Regions from separate parts of the Homo sapiens genome. Here region 1 is linked to region 2. Evidence: fine-mapped expression QTL. A gene starts in region 2. The other region holds a variant in brackets. All regions are shown on one strand. Distances are between the middles of the regions.

What was found. PIP is the estimated chance that this variant, and not a neighbour inherited with it, causes the effect.
Region 1: its variant is the best candidate, but not a certain one, in a credible set for the expression of TMEM87A in nasal epithelium (TOPMed, PIP 0.59).

Annotation. Positions count from the first base shown.
Region 1 is chr15:42,328,307-42,336,306 of GRCh38, reverse strand. GANC (glucosidase alpha, neutral C) reads right to left here. Exons shown (of 24, transcript NM_198141.3): 14 at 6,858-7,001; 15 at 5,635-5,731. Among named protein-coding and RNA genes, the nearest start is that of CAPN3, 27 kb to the left of the region's middle. The variant TC/C (reference allele first, on the strand shown) is at 4,448.
Region 2 is chr15:42,269,221-42,277,705 of GRCh38, reverse strand. It overlaps TMEM87A (transmembrane protein 87A), which reads left to right and starts at 4,273. Exons shown (of 20, transcript NM_015497.5): 1 at 4,273-4,451; 2 at 5,583-5,643. The coding sequence starts at 4,308. It overlaps GANC (glucosidase alpha, neutral C), which reads right to left and starts at 4,505. Exons shown (of 24, transcript NM_198141.3): 1 at 3,196-4,505; 2 at 1,296-1,358. The coding sequence starts at 3,224. RefSeq lists enhancers at 3,112-4,311, 4,284-4,513, 4,674-4,923.

The sequences.
Region 1 (8,000 bases), 59 kb before region 2:
ATTCTGTTCCATTGGTCTACATGCCTGTTTTTGTGCCAGTATCATGTTGTTTTGGTTACTGCAGCCTTGTAGTAGTTTGAGGTTGGGTAGCATATTGCCTCCTGCTTTGTTCTTTTTGCTTAGGACTGCCTTGGTTATTCAGGCTCTTTTTTTTTTCTTTTTTTTTTTTGGTTCAATATGAATTTTAAAATAGTTTTTTCTAGTTTTGTGAAGAATGTCATTGGTAGTTTGACAGGAATAGCACGGAATCTATAAATTGCTTTGGGCAGTATGGCCATTTCAACAATATTGATTTTTCCTATCCATGAGCATGGAATGTTTTTCTATTTGCTTGTGTTATCTCTGATTTCTTTGAGCAGCGTTTTGTAGTTCTCATTGTAGAGATCTTTCACCTCGCTGGTTAGCTGTATTCCTAGGTATTTTCTTCTTTTTGAGGCAATTGTGAATGGGACTATGCTCCTGATTTGGCTCTAGGCTTGACTGTTGTTGGTGTATAGAAATGCTAATGATTATTATATGTTGATTTTGTATCCTGAGACTTTGCTGAAGTTGTTTATTAGCTTAAGGAGCTTTTGGGCTGAGACTATGGGGTTTTCTAGACAGAGTCATGTCATCTGCAAATAGGAATAGTTTGACTTCCTCTCTTTCTATCTGGATGCACTTTATTTCTTCCTCTTGCCTGACTGCTCTGGCCAGGACTTCTTCCAATATCATTTTGAATAGGAGTGGTGACAGACGGCATCCTTGTATTGTGCCAGTTTTCAAGGGGAATGCTTCCAGCTTTTGCCCATTTAGTATGATGTGGGCTGTGGATTTGTCAAATATGACTCTTATTATTTTGAGGTATGTTCCTTCAGTACCTAGTTTGCTGAGAGTTTTTAACAAGAAGGGATGCTGAATTTTATTGAAAGCTTTTTCTGCATCTATTGAGATGATCATGTGGTTTTTGTCTTTAGTTCTGTTTATGTGATGAATCACATTTATTGACTTGGGTATGTTAAACCAACCTTGCATTCCAATGATAAAGGCTTCTTGATCACGGTGGATAAGCTTTTTGATGTGCTGCTGAATTCAGTCTGCCAGTATTTTGTTGAGGATTTTTGCATCAATGTTCATCGAGGATACTGGCTTGAAATTTTCTCTTTTTTGTGTCTCTGCCAGGTTTTGGCATCAGGATGATGCTGGCATTATAGAATGAGTTAGGGAGGAGTCTTTCCTCCTCAATTTTTTGAAATAGTGTCAGTAGAAATGGTATCAGCTCTCCTTTGTACATCTGGTAAAACTGGGATGTGAATCTGTCTGGTCCTGGGCTATTTTTGGTTGGTAGGCTTTTTACTACTCATTCAATTTTGGAGCTCGTTATTAGTCTTTTCAGGGATTCAATTTCTTCTTGGTTCAGTCTTAGGAGGGTATATGTGTCCAGGAATTTATCCATTTCTCCTACATTTTCTCCTTTGTAATTCCTAATTGTGTTTATTTGGATTTTCTCTCTTTTCTTCTTTATTAGTCTAGCTAGCAGTCTATCTATTTTGTTATTATTATTTTTTTTTCAGAAAACCAACTCTTAAAGTAGGTTGTCTTTCTTATTATTATTGAGTAGTAAAAGTTCTTTATATATTCTGGATACAAGTATTTTGGCAGATATATCTGTATATGTATATTTCAAATATTTTTTTCCTCAGTCGGTGGCTTGCCATTTCATTTTCTTACCAATGTCTTTGAAAGGGCAGACATTTTTAAATTTTGATAAAGTCTAATTTGTCATTTTTTTCTTTTATGATTCATGCTTTTTGTGTTCTTTCTAAGAAATGTTTGTCTGTTTCAAAGCCATAAAGATTTTCTACTGGCCAGGTGCAGTGGCTCACGCCTGTAATCCCAGCACTTTGTGAAGCCGAGGAGGGCAGATCACTTGAGGTCAAGAGTTTAAGACCGGACTGCCCAACATGGTGAAACCCTGTCTCTACTAAAAATGTAAAAGTTAGCCAGGTGTGGTGGTGGGCACCTGTAATCCCAGCCACTCAGGAGGCTGAGGCAGGAGAATCACTTGAACCCGGGAGGTGGAGGTTGCAGTGATCTGAGATGATGCCATTGCATTCCAGCCTGGGCAACAGAGTGAGACTCCATCTCAAAAAAAAAAAAAAGATTTTATTCTATGTTTTTTTCCAGAAGTTAGGTTGTATTTTTAGCTTTTAAAATGAGTTAATTTTTTAGTTTAATTTTGAATATGGTATGAGGTAGGGGTGTAGTTTCATTTTTTTCCCCACACAGATATCCAGTTGTTTCAGAACCATTTACTGAAAAGAAATTGTAATTTCTCCATTAAATTGCCTTGGAAACTTTGTTGCAAAGCAATTGATCACATATGTGTTGGATACTCTGGATTCTCTACTCTGTTCAATTGATCTATGTACCTATTTCCTCCCACCTCCACCAGCCCCTGCTTCCAAAGAAAACCCTAAAAAATTTGAGAGAAGTGTTACAGGCCTTAAAGGGGAGACATAATAACAGTAGCAATAACAATAATTAACATTTATTTAACCCATACTGAGCCAGGTGTTATGCCGAATAGTTTGCTGGTATTATCCTACTTAATAATCACAACAATCCTATCAGATAAACACTATTATAAACTCAATTTTATAGATGAGGGAAGTATAGCAAGCAATGGATGCATAATCTACCCAGAGTTACACAGTTATTAAGTGGTAGAGGCAGGATTTGAGCCCAGGCACTCTGATGCCTAAGCCAGTGTTCTTGTTCTTATTTACTGAAGAGTTGCTAAGAGTTTGTGATGAGAGATTATATACCACCAAAGACAGCCATAAAAGGGAAAGTCTTATTTTATGAAATATATACTACTTCTGAAGCATTTTTGTCTATCTTCTACCAAAATAGTTTTGGTAGCTATTTTTGTTTTAATCTTTCATAGAAATTTTAGGCCGCCCTATGGCCAGGAAAAAAAAAATTCTTTTTTTTTTTGAGATGGAGTTTCACTCTGTGGCCCAGGCTGGACTGCAGTGGTGCAATCTTGGCTCACTGCAACTTCCACTTCCCAGTTGCAAGAAATTCTCCTGCCTCAGCCTCCTGAATAGCTGGGACTACAGGCATGTGCCACTATGCCTGGCTCATTTTCGTATTTTTAGTAGAGACAGGGTTTCACCATGTTGCCCAGGCTGGTCTCAAACTCCTAACCTCAAGTGATCTGCCCACCTGCCTCAGAAAAGTACTGGGATTACAGACATGAGCCACTGCTCGTGACCAAAAAAAATATATATATATATATTTTTTGAGACAGAGTTTTGCTCTTGTTGCCCAGGCTGGAGTGCAATGGCACGATCTCTGCTCACTGCAACCCCTGCCTCCCAGGTTCAAGCGATTCTCCTGCCTCAGCCTCCCTAGTAGCTGGGATTACAGGTGCGCGCTACCACGCAGCTATTTTTTTTTTTTTTTTTTTTAGTAGAGACAGGGTTTCACCATGTTGATCAGGCTAGTCTTGAACTCCTGACCTCAGGTGATCCACCCGCCTCGGCCTCCCAAAGTGCTGGGATTACAGGTTTGAGCCACTGTGCCTGGCTCAAAAAAAATATTTTCCAGGGATTGTTCTTTTAAAAAAGTATTCTAATTTCCTCTTGACTTCAAGCGAGATATGTACGTATTTACATAATGATTTTGAAATCCGTATGGAGACATTCTCATCAAGAAAGAAAGCTCACATAAACATGCAGATATTTTCATGTCTCATACTATTGTTTAGTCAGAAGTTCTCTATGGCTATTGATCATCGCATATGACTTAACAAAGTAGTGTTTCCTGTAATGTCTTGCTACACAGTGAAGCAAAGCTGATAGCTTCACACAGAGTACTGCAGGCTAAGCAATGGACCAACATAAGAGATCAACAATAACCTAATATTTAAATCTTCTGTTATCTTTTTTTAACTGTTGCTGGTAAATGTTTTCATTAAAAATACTTTTTTTTGTGATTAAAAATGATACTTGTAGACAATTTGTAAAATAAAGTTAGATAAAAGAAAAAAATGAAAATCACTCAAAATCACCAAGGTATTACATTTTCTTATATTTAACTGTCTGCCTATCTACCCACTTATTTATTTAAATTACTATCTTCCATTAATCTTTTATAAAATTGAGATAATAAGAAATAAGACTTGATGTTTGATAGATCAGTAAGGTGACTATAGTTAGCCTTGATTGTGTGCATTTTAAAAAAGCTAAAAGAGAATAATTTAAACGTTCCTAGTATAAAGAAAAGATACATATTTAAGGTGATAGATATCCCAATTACTCTGATTTGATTATATGAACATATCAAATTATCACACATATCCTGAAAATATGTACATCTAATACATATCAATACAAAATTAGGTTAATATTATAAACACTTAGGTGTTCCTTTTTTTATTTATCATATCAAAAACATTTTT[TC/C]ATGCAATTAAATCTACCATTTAAAATAGCCTTATGAAAATTAAAAAAAGAAAAAAAATTTTTTAAACATAAATAGCCTCACGATAATCTATCATGTTGCTATACCATACTTTTATAACTATTCCCTTATTGTTATGTATTTAGATTTTCTTTCTTACTTTTGTTTCAAGGACTACCACTGTGTTGAATACCTCTGTACATGAATCTTTGCCTGAGATTGTAATATTTTGGCCCTTTCCAGAATGCCACAGGGCCAGGTTTTCAGGGGTGGAGTGGGAGGCTTAATAATGTCCACAGGATAGTAAGGGCTGGATTCTTTAAACTAGGATCTAAGCTCTCCGTTGCTTATGCAAGGCCAGGGGACTTAAAATAGCCTTCCTGCCACAGGGTTGTTAAGTTGAACCAGATCTGCATTAGCTGGTAAACTGCATCCAGTTATAGATGACCCTGACCACACGCAACAGCCAGGTCTATTTTAAGCCACATTTCTAAGTGGAACAGTTGGTTAATGGAATGTGTTAGAGGTGTATCTCCCTGGCTTTGATAAATCAAAGAGACAGGACCAAAGATGACTATCCCAGCAAACTGAATACTTAGAAGTTACTCTCCCAACAACGAAGTGGCCATTTCTTCAGTGAGAAACAAGTATCAAATGACTAAAATTTGTTTATTCTGTCTTATAGGACAAAATCCACACTTTAGGGCATACCACTGTCTACAATCAAAGGCCTGACCAATGGCTATTGAAAAGGAAGGCATCAGCTGAGTGTGGTGGTTCACACCTGTAATCACAACACTTTGGGAGGCCAAGGTGGGCAGATCGCTTGAGTCCAGGAGTTCGAGACTAGCCTGGGCAACATGGTGAAACCCTGTCTCTACCAAAAAATACATATACATATATAAATTAGCTGGGTGTGGTGGTGTGCACCCGTAATCCCAGCTACTCATGAGGCTTCGGTGGGAGGATTGCTTGAGCCCAGGTGGTCAATGCTGCAGTGAGTCATGACTGTGCCACTGCACTCCAGCCTGGGTGACAAAGCGAGACTCTGTTTCAAACAAACAAATGAAAAAAAAAAAAAAAAAAAAAAGGAAAAGGAAGGCATCAGCACAGTAACATCACATTCTATAAATGGTTAAAAAAAAAGTTGCTAATGTGTTTTTAAGTCTGATATGAGCCATTCCTTACCATACTTTTGTGATCCAGCAAAGAAAGAACGTGTAAGAACAAAGGGTCTCTCCTTCCCTTTAGATCGTTTTATCAGTCCTTCTGCAGTAGCCATTTGCTATATCACCAAACAAGAAAAATTTCAAAGAGATGATTGGATTTGTACAGACATCCCCAATAAGCTATCTAACATACAAAAAGCAAACAGTAGGCAGGAGCATGAAATGGAAAATATTAAAATAAATCCATCAAATAATTTTCATGGTATAATGAAATTACTCTAAATTCCCCTATTAAAAGAATGGAAAATTTTCTTTGGTTAACAATAGCAATGAAATAATAATAAACAATCATCTAGCATTTCTTTGGTGCTTACTATTGCTAGGCATTTAATATAATTTTCTCATATAATCTCCGTAACAACCTCTGAGACAGACAGTTTTCATTGGTACGAAAAACTGAGCTTCAGAGAGGTTAAATGACTGGTCCTGACCTATATAAGACAGCTCACTAACTAAAGCAGTCTACAGTTACTGCAACAGGCTGTTAAAGAGGCAAACACACACAATCTGAAAACTATGCTTATATTTAGCCAAAAGATCCCATTGGAAAATACCAATAGGTAAGAGGGCCACAGGAATACAGTCACAATTTGAAAATAACAAAGAACCATGGGTATACATGAGGTCAAGTGTCTGCCACGTCTTTTGGATGTAGTTGGCAAATGAAAGATAATTTTACCACCTTTATTGAGGAAGCTAAGTACTTAAGGAAGGCTTTACATTTTTAAAATATACTTATTGAAGCTGTGTGTCTGTGTTCTAAATATTGCTCCTCCAGTGTGAATATAAGATTTGCTGTATTTAGATATCTGTGAAATCTTAAAACACTTGTTTTAATTACCTTCATTCACATATTTATATACTGCTTGCATCAATAAAAGTTTGAGGTAGTGGCCAGTGAGTGCCACTTATTAATGGCTCCTATCAAGGCAGAAGCTTTATGTTATAATTAATTTCATAATATTTAAAAGTTCATCAAGTTCATCATGAAAAGAAAAGAAGCAAAGGGAGAAATAATAAAAAGTCTTGTATTGGCTACTACCTAAGACTCATTGCAGTTGTCAGAAAAGACACACAAAGAGAAATGAACAGTAGAGAATAGCCATTATATCACAAAGCAAATGACCTTCAGCCAAAAGGTGGGTCACACAAGCCCAGTTTAATTCTTTTTGGATGTCTTACATGATAAAAACCGTAGATGTTGTGGAGCTCTCTGTGCTCCCAATTGCCATGATGAATGGCATTCTTCTGCATGGTTTGCTCTGGCCCTCTAAAGACAGAAGGCTCATTCATGTCATTCCAAAGGAAGAGGATGTCCGTAGATCCCTAGGAAGTAAACCTTGGTCATGACACTCCTACATTGATGATGTCTATATAATAGCTGTCACCATTGCTACCTCATTTTAAAAATTATGTTTATTATCTATGCTCTGTCCTCTGCTCCACTGCTAGAGTATAAGTTCCACAGGGAACAACATTTTGTCTGTTTTGTTCATTAATAAATCCCAAACATCTAGAATAGTACCTGGCCCATAGACAGATCTCAATAAATATTTGCTGCTGAATAAAAGAATGCTGCCCTGTGTTGTCTGTGAAATATATATTGCCTGGCAAATTCATTCCAAGACCTCCCTGCAGGACTCCTATGGGAAAGGTTGTGAATGTTCACAATTGGGCTCCTTCTCATTCATCAGATGCTACAACTCTTAACTAAGGGCAACTATAGCTGAACATGACAAGATTCTACCTTCTCTCTAATACTTTGAAAGACTTGACAGCCAATATACCTGTTTGTTAACATGATCTATAGTTTGTATCCTACACAGAACTGTTCAGTTTAGAGTGGGAAGGGACAGTTGAGTCATCTAGCTAACATGGTATTGTAGAATCCCTGGTCTTTTCTAGAATCACTTATCTTTTGGCGTTTGACTGAATAGCTAAAAAGACAGGGAGTCCCTCAGGCAGCTCATTCTATTATTTTTCAAAAATCCTGCTCCTTGTATATAACATTCCCCTCGCAGAGCCTACCTAGCTTACCTTCTGAGACCCCACAGAATACATCTGTCACCTCGCCCACAAGAAAGTCTTTCAAATTCCTGGAGGTGGCTTGTTTTTTTTTTTTTTTGAATCTTTATTTCTAAACATGTGTGTTCTTCTATGTATAAGGGGGTAAATGATTTCCAAATATTTAACTACCATATCTTTCCTTTAGAACCATCTAAAGCAGGGATTGGCAAACATTTTTGGTAAAGGTCCAGATAGTAAATATTTTCAACTTTGCAGGCCATGAGGTCTCTTTTTCAATTATTCAACTCTGCCATAGTA
Region 2 (8,485 bases):
TCGCTTGAACCCAGGAGGTGGAGGTTGTGGTGGGCAGTGATTGCGCCACTGCACTCCAGCCTGGGTGACAGAGGGAGACTCCGTCTCAAAAAAATGCATAAAAATAAAATAAAATGAAGATTTTAAAGGCATATTTTTTGTAGCTCTGGAGAAACAGGCAATCTTTTTTTTTTTTTAGACGGAGTTTCACTCTTGTTGCCCAGGCTGGAGTGCAATGGCACAATCTCGGCTCACCACAATCTCTGCCTCCCAGGTTCAAGCAATTCTCCTGCCTCAGCCTCCCAAGTAGCTGGGATTACAGGCATGCGCCACCATGCCTGGCTAATTTTGTATTTTTAGTAGAGACGGGGTTTCTGCATGTTGGTCAGGCTGGTCTCAAACTCCCAACCTCAGGTGATCCGCCTGCCTTGGCCTCCCGAAGTGCTGGGATTACAGGTGTGAGCCACCTCGCCCAGCCAGGCAATCTTATATAATGTTGATAGGAGTACAAATGGTATAATTCCTATGGAGGGAAATCTGGTAATAGTTAACACATTTCAAATGCATTTACTCTTTGACCCAGTAATCTCACTCCTAGAAAGGTATCCTATAAATACACCTGCATGTGTAGAAAATGACCTATGTATAGCTCTTCATTGTGGTAGTGCTATTTTAGCAAAAGATTAAAAACAACCCAAGGGTCTAGCAATAAGAGACAGACTGAATAAATTATATTAATAGTATATCTACCCCATGGAATATTATGCAGCTGTAAAAAGGAGAAACAATCTCCATGCACTCATATGAATTTCTCCTCAGAACAAACTATAAAGCAGGAAAAAAAACCTATTTGGTATAAAAAGGGGTGATTAAAAAAAGAGAAAAGCAATAATATAAAAATACATGTATTTACAAAAAAATACTGGAAGGATAAATAAGAAATGAAGAAATTCGGTTATTCGGGACAAGATGAGGAATGGGTAGAAGGGGACAGGAGTGGAAGCAACATTTTTCAATGTATAGCTCTTTATATTATTTTTGAACCATGTAAAAGTGTTATCTATTCAAAGCGTCAAAATTTAAAACTAGTTTAAAAATATTTTGGCTTTTAAAATAAAATAGCTGTTTATTGAAAAATTTAAATACTTCAGGAGTAAATGTATAAAGTTAAAAGTGAGTCTCCTGTCTGATGATTTCCTTAATTATTAAATTATCCTTTCCTTGGAAAGTCTATCAGTTCCAAAAATTTAATAAGCATCAATTTTGAAATACTGTCAGAGATGTTTTGATCTAGCTACTATATTTATTTTCCTTACCTGTAAAATGCGATCTTGTTACAGTCTCTGAAAATGTTTTTATCTACAGCTTCATCTTCAAGACTAAATAAAAAGACATTTTGAGAAATTTATTTCACACAGGGCTTGTGAATCCAACTTTTGTACCTTCTCTAACGACAGTATGAACATGCAAAATAAACCTTTGGAGTCTATTCTGCAATGCAAAATTGTGTCACGGCCACAGTATAACATAATAGCACATTATGTTGCAGAACAATAGCCTTTTGTAAACCCTCTGAGGTAAACAACAAAACATCAGGTTCTGGGATTACTCCAAAAGTAATGGGAAAAGATCACTGTCACTTATGAGGACATATTCTTTTGAAATAATGACTGAAGGCTATGACCACAAAAGTAAAATCTGAAGGAGGAAAACCAAAACAGCATCCCAAAACGAACAAACCAAAACCAACCAACCAGACAAACTAAGAACCATAACCCACCCACCGATTTATTCAAGAAAATATTTTCAGAATATTCTTCCTGAGAGCTGGGCTCTGAGGAAGATATGAACTGTGTTCAAGCTATCAGTTAGGGTTTTACCAGCAATCACAATACAAGCTGACAAATGCTTTAATAGAGGTGCAAGGTGCTAGAATAAGAACAGAACAGACGTAGAAGGGGAATTTCTTGCTTTTTAAGATGAGGTGACAAACTAGGGGCCATGTTTTTTAAAACCAAGTTTCCAGAAGAGCTGTTTCTGGGATAAAACATGAATGAGATATATGTATATTGAAGTTTGAGTATATGTATTTAAACTAGCCTCCATCTGATTAAAACAACTACAGATTATAAGGAGAAAAAAAAATTACACCGGCTTTCATGCACTAGTGTGGCCGAATGCATCTGTAGTCAGCATGTCCATGATTATGTAGAAAGCTATGACTGAACACAAACGTCGAAATATTATGAAAACAAGCCCAGGCAGATATACTTGGCCATACTAAAAAACTGTTTGTCCTTCACTGAACTCAGTCTTTGTCCGTTTATTTTAATTTATTAAAAAAATTTTTTTTGAGACAGGATCTCGCTCTGCCTCCTACGTTGGAGTGAAGTGGCACGATCTTGGCTTGCTGCAACTGCCGCCTCCTGGGCTCAGGCTATCTTCCTGCCTCAGCCTCCTGAGTAGCTGGGACTACAGGCCCACATCACCACGTCTGGCTAACTTTAAAATTTTTGTAGAGACAGGGATTCAGCATGTTGCCCAGGCTGGTCTGAACTCCTGGGTTCAAGCAATCTGCCCACCTATAGGCCTCCCAAAGTGCTGGGATTACAGGCATGAGCGAACCGGCCCAGTTTATTTTAATCAAGTGTACAAAGATTGGAGAATCTTTTGTTTCCTCTTTACAGCTTCGAAGAATTAACTCTGGGATGATATAGGAAGGGGTGATTATAGATGAATTTGGAAAGCAACATGCCTGAAATTCACGTGTTAAGAGTTCTGATTGCAACTTTTCCACTGTTAATGTTATTTAACCATCCTTTTTTTTTGGAGACAGGGTCTCACTTTGTTGCCCAAGCAGTGGCAAGATCACAGCTCCACTGCAGCCTCCAAATCCATCCTCCCAGTGGTCTCCCAAGTAGCTGGGACTCCGAGGGGGCGGGGAGGGGGTCTCGAACTCCTGAACTCAAGCGATCCTCCCACCTTAGCCTCCCAAAGTGCTGTGGGATTACCTGCGTGAGCCACTGCACCCGGCCTATTTAACCATCCTGAAAGTATTTTATGAGAGGCTATTAATATCAACTAACTTCCCGCGAATTGAGAGAAAAGATAAAGGTCAGCAAATACCAAATACGCAAATAAGAAATGCAATTAAAACACTATTCCCTGTTTCTAGGGACCCTGGGGTCACTCGCTACAGAAGCACTTGGCCTTTACCTTATTTCCTCTTTCACTGCTGCTTCCATGGCTTCTCTGTCACTCCGACCAGCTCCCAGCTCTCAGGACAAGGGCCCTGGGCGATCTTTTAAAAAAGCCGATTGGGTGTCTTTCTAAAATTACAACCAGTACTTCATCGTCAAGTTTCTGGGAAGGGAGTCCCCTCCAGATTCTCATGGAGTGACAAATCTTGACTCTTGCTCCTGGAATTTTTCAGGCCCAAACTAGCGTTTCTACAATGATTTATTTGGCAAATTTGTCTTGATTATGGGTGGCTGATGAGGAACGTGCTTTTGTTAGGAACCGAAACTGGGCGGCGGTGAGGGCGTGTACGCAATGAGTCCTAGAGGGTAAAAATCAAGAGCGTTAAGAACCTGGAAATGCCGAGACGGCCTCCCTGACTGGGACGAAGCATCTGCAGATCTATCTCAGTGGCGGGGTCACGCCACAGATTTTGAAAACTGACCCTCTCTGTCTCCGTTTTCGGTTAAGGGTGGGAAGTGCCGGCCGGGTCTTTGCTGGAGGCTAGGTCTCCAGCCAGATTGTACTGCAGCATCGTACTCTTCAGGGCTAGAAGGGGCCTTTGAAGGTTGTTACACTACCCAGTCTAGGAATCGCGTGTACTCCACCACCGCCGAATTCCAGCCTTTGCTTAAATACCACCCAAACCGGAGAACTCACTACTAGACGCCACTTGGGCAGCCAGGCTTAGGGCTTTTCCAGACTTTCTGGCCCCAAAGTCTGACATTGACTTAGAAGGGATGAAGGGCTGGGGCGAGCGGAAGTAGAGAGCCAAATCCTGCACGGGGTGCCTGCCTGGTCCTAAAACCTTTAACGGCTGGGAGACAGAAAAGACTCAGGCCAGGCTGGCATGTAGCGATCTCTCTAACCCAGCTGACCAGGTTCCAACAGGATGACGCCTGCGCAGTAGGTCCAAAGTCTCACGGCGCACAGACGACTGTCTGAGAGAGGGGCCGCTACGCCGCACAGCAAACAAGCTCCGCGACGTTTCCAGGACCCGGATAATCCCGCCCTTAGAGCAGAGCCGGAAGAAGGCGGGACGAACCGGAAGAGGGTGAAATGCTTTCGGTAGGCACTCCACGGCTGTGAAGATGGCGGCGGCTGCGTGGCTTCAGGTGTTGCCTGTCATTCTTCTGCTTCTGGGAGCTCACCCGTCACCACTGTCGTTTTTCAGTGCGGGACCGGCAACCGTAGCTGCTGCCGACCGGTCCAAATGGCACATTCCGATACCGTCGGTGAGTATTCACTTCACTAACGTCTGAACCTAGAGGAGCAAGGGGTGGGGCTACGGCGGCCCAAGGGGTCCATGAAGGTTCCGCAAAAGTCTCTTCAAAAGGGGTGGGGTTGCTGGGATGGTCTGTGTGGCTAGCCAACTGGGACCCACCTCCCTGGAGTGGAAAGCCGCGCACTTCTGTGATTAGGCTAGCGGGAATGTAAGGGCCACTTCAGCAACAGAAAGGAGTGGTGGAGCGGCTTCTCATCAGAAAAACAGAACTTTCAGTGCCTGACTTGAGATGTAAACTTGATGTACAAACGGAGAGTTGTTTATCTTTCAGATGTTTCACAGAATCCAGTGTCCCCGGGTTGGATAAGAAAGATATGTAAATAGGAGTCTTCATTTCTTTCTTTCTTTTTCTTCCTCTGCACTTCTTGGTCCCTGGGTAATTCTGCTTACGAGATGGTTCGACTTCGCTTCAACTTTGGAATGGCTATTCTAAGCTTTACTGTGTGACTAGAAAGCATAGAGATTTAAGAAATGTGTTTTAACATGGGAATGGTTAAAATTGAAGAAATAGTACTTAAAATTTAATGTGGTAAGGCTAGTCTTTCATTTGGATAATTAACTACATGGGTTGACCCTTTCTGCCCCTTACCCATTTTAAACCTTATTTCAGTAACAGGTATAGTCCTGTGAGCAGACAAAAACCAGATGCAGGGAGGAAATGCTGAAAAGCATTAGCCCCATTAAACCTACGTTGGCCTTTTTGTTTCATTCTGCTCTGCTCACTGACTGTAATGTCCAAATCTTATTTGGGCTTTTATTATGGTAAACGTTATACCTTTTGTTCAGTGGTGAAGATTTTCAGGTGTTCAGTTAGGTTTTTACTTGTTACTAAAATGGTTAATAGTTAAGTCTTTTTAGATTTGAAAATAAAACTCTGGTTATTTGCACACAGAATAGTTCATTAGAAAAAATGATTGGTTATTCTGAGCAGTGATTGGTGAGTAAAGGGAATGAACTGATTAAGGGGTACGTCCCATAAAGATTTAAGTTAAGTTGGAATTTCTAGCAGTCTTAGATAGTTATATGATGCTTTGGTAATTGAAGCCATCTGAGGCTAATTATCTTTCCTTTATGTTTGCAGGGGAAAAATTATTTTAGTTTTGGAAAGATCCTCTTCAGAAATACCACTATCTTCCTGAAGTGTGAGTTTTTGAATTTCATGAAGTTTTAATTTGAATTTTAAAAATTTATAGGTAATGTTTTAAATTACCTATTTTATAAGTTCTGAAATCTAATAGTCTGGCATTATCTAGGTATAAATATTTTTAGTATTACTAAGGTCCTTTTACTGAATCATCTTCAAAGTACTCGTGTGAACTTTATTTTCTTCTCTTGTTTTTCTGGTGTTTACATTGCATATATACACTATGTAGACATTATATATTAGTATATATAATGTATATATTAATATATATGCTGTATATACTACATTGAATATTCAGTCACATCTCAGTCGAATTACATTTACAGTTGATACTTTCTGAGAAAAGCATCCTTAGGTGATTTTGTCATTATGCAAACATCATAGAGTATACTTAAAACTGGATGGCACTACACGCCTAGTTTGTATGGTACAGCCTATTGCTCCTAGGCTATAAACCTGTATAACATGTTACTGTACTGAATGCTATAGGTGGTTGTAACACAATGGTAAGTTTTTGTATATCTAAACATAGGAAAGTAGAGTACAAATACGATATTACAATTTTATGGGACCCCCGTTGTATATGTAGTCTTTCATTTACTGAAATGTTATGTAGTGAATGACTGTGATTATGTTGGGGTTGATTCCCTGCATGGTGGTTTTAATCTGTTCTGTGTAGATTAAAGAGGTTTTACTCTTGTGTGCTTGTTAAATGTTTACTGCAAACATGACCTAGGTTTGTCAGGCCGTTGGCTGTGAAGGAATATATTTAGTAGATCCTTTATTTACAAAAGGAGTATTTTACTGCTTTGGAAGAGGAAGCTCAGATATTATCAAGAAATAGGGATTATGTAGAACAAAACTAGTTTGTCTAGTGGAAAAATGACTGTATCTGAATCTAAAGTATCCCATTGTGTGTTCAGTAAAAGCTTCCTTTTAGTTCTGAAACCGGCTTTAATTTAGAGAACGATTGATCGTGGGCAGCTTTATTTCTAGATGAGGGATAAAAATCCTGATGATAGATGTGTGATTCTATGCATACTGTCTTCACGGAAGTGCAAAATTTTAAGTCATAGTTGGATAATTTTATTCTTTTCAATTGTTTAGTGAGTAATTATTACTTATTGCATAGACTGTGGGGAAGTAATAGAAAAATGTTCTTCCCTCATCGAGCTTACATTCTAGTGGGAGTGAAAACAGCAGGTAGAATTTCTCTGAAGAATATATACTGTATCCATGAATATGTAATCAGTCTCCTGACCAGTGACTTATATTTGATTTAGATCAAATCTACTCTGACACTGGCCTTGTGAGATTGGTTTACTGGGTAACCTAGTAACCCTTGTCTTTTGGAATAGCTTGACAGCCTGTTTGCTGTTTTATTCTTTTATTAGGTCCAGTCTTTTTTTCTCGTGTAGTTTGATCTAGTGGTGTTTTGCCAAGTTAAACCAACTGCATTTTTTTTAAGATGGTGTCTCACTCTGTCACCCAGACTGGAGTGCAGTGGTACGATCTTGGCTTACTGCAACCTCCACCTCCCAGGTTCAAGCGATTCTCCTGCCTCAGCCTCCCGAGTAGCTGGGATTACAGGCATGAGTCTCTATGCCCAGCCCTAACTGCGTATTTTGAAGTGTTTATATTTCATTGTTTTTGGAGGATTTGAGGCACTTTATTTTTTGTTGTTGTTTTTTGAGACGGAGTTTTGCTGTGACGCCCAGGCTGGAATGCAGTGGCACGATCTCGGCTCACTGTAACCTCTGCTTCCTGGGTTCAAGCGATTCTTCTGCCTCAGCCTCCCGAGTAGCTGGGACTATAGGCGCGTGCCACCACGCCGGCTAATTTTTGTATTTTTAGCAGAGGTGGGGGTTTCACCATATTGGCCAGGCTGGTCTCGAACTCCCGACCTCAAGTTATCTGCCTGCCTTGGCCTCCCACAGTTCTGGGATTACAGGTGTGAGCCACCGTGCCCGGCCTGAGACACTTTAACATTATCTTTTTCTTTGTTATTTCTGTGCTTTCTCATATTTACCAGTTGTCTTTGATTTTGTACTTTTTGGGGGATGGTATATAGCTTTCCATGGAATAGCTGGGACCATTTTTTTTTTTTTTTTTTTTTTTGAGACGGAGTCTCGCTCTGTCGCCCAGGCCGGACTGCGGATTGCAGTGGCGCAATCTCGGCTCACTGCAAGCTCCGCTTCCCAGGTTCACGCCATTCTCCTGCCTCAGCCTCCCGAGTAGCTGGGACTACAGGCGCCCGCCACCGCGCCCGGCTAATTTTTTGTATTTTTAGTAGAGACGGGGTTTCACCTTGTTAGCCAGGATGGTCTCGATCTCCTGACCTCATGATCCACCCGCCTCGGCCTCCCAAAGTGCTGGGATTACAGGCGTGAGCCACCGCGCCCGACCTTATTGTCTCTTAAAGCCTTTCATTTAAAGTTCTAAATATTGTCTTGTAACATAAACAGCAGTATTTTTGCTGCCAAATTTCCTTACAAGTCTCCTGTTTGGGGGATGTGTTCTTACTGGCTTTTTATTAGTTAATCCTGTCCCTGTATGGATTATTTTGAATAGTTCATAGCCCAATTGCTTTTTATCATTTCCATAAATTCTATCCAACAGGTCAAATTTTTGAACATTCTAATAGAGTCCTTTGAAAATGTGTTGGTCATCTAAAAATTAGTTTGAGAAAACAGTTTAAAAGAAAAAAAAAGGAAGCTTATAATTAGGTTGCTTCTTTTGTTATGAATGAAAAGTAGATTCCTAAATGCAGTCATGTTTATTTTTGTCATGTTTATTATTACATTTATATAAAGTAGGGAGTCTTTAGTATATTTTTCCTT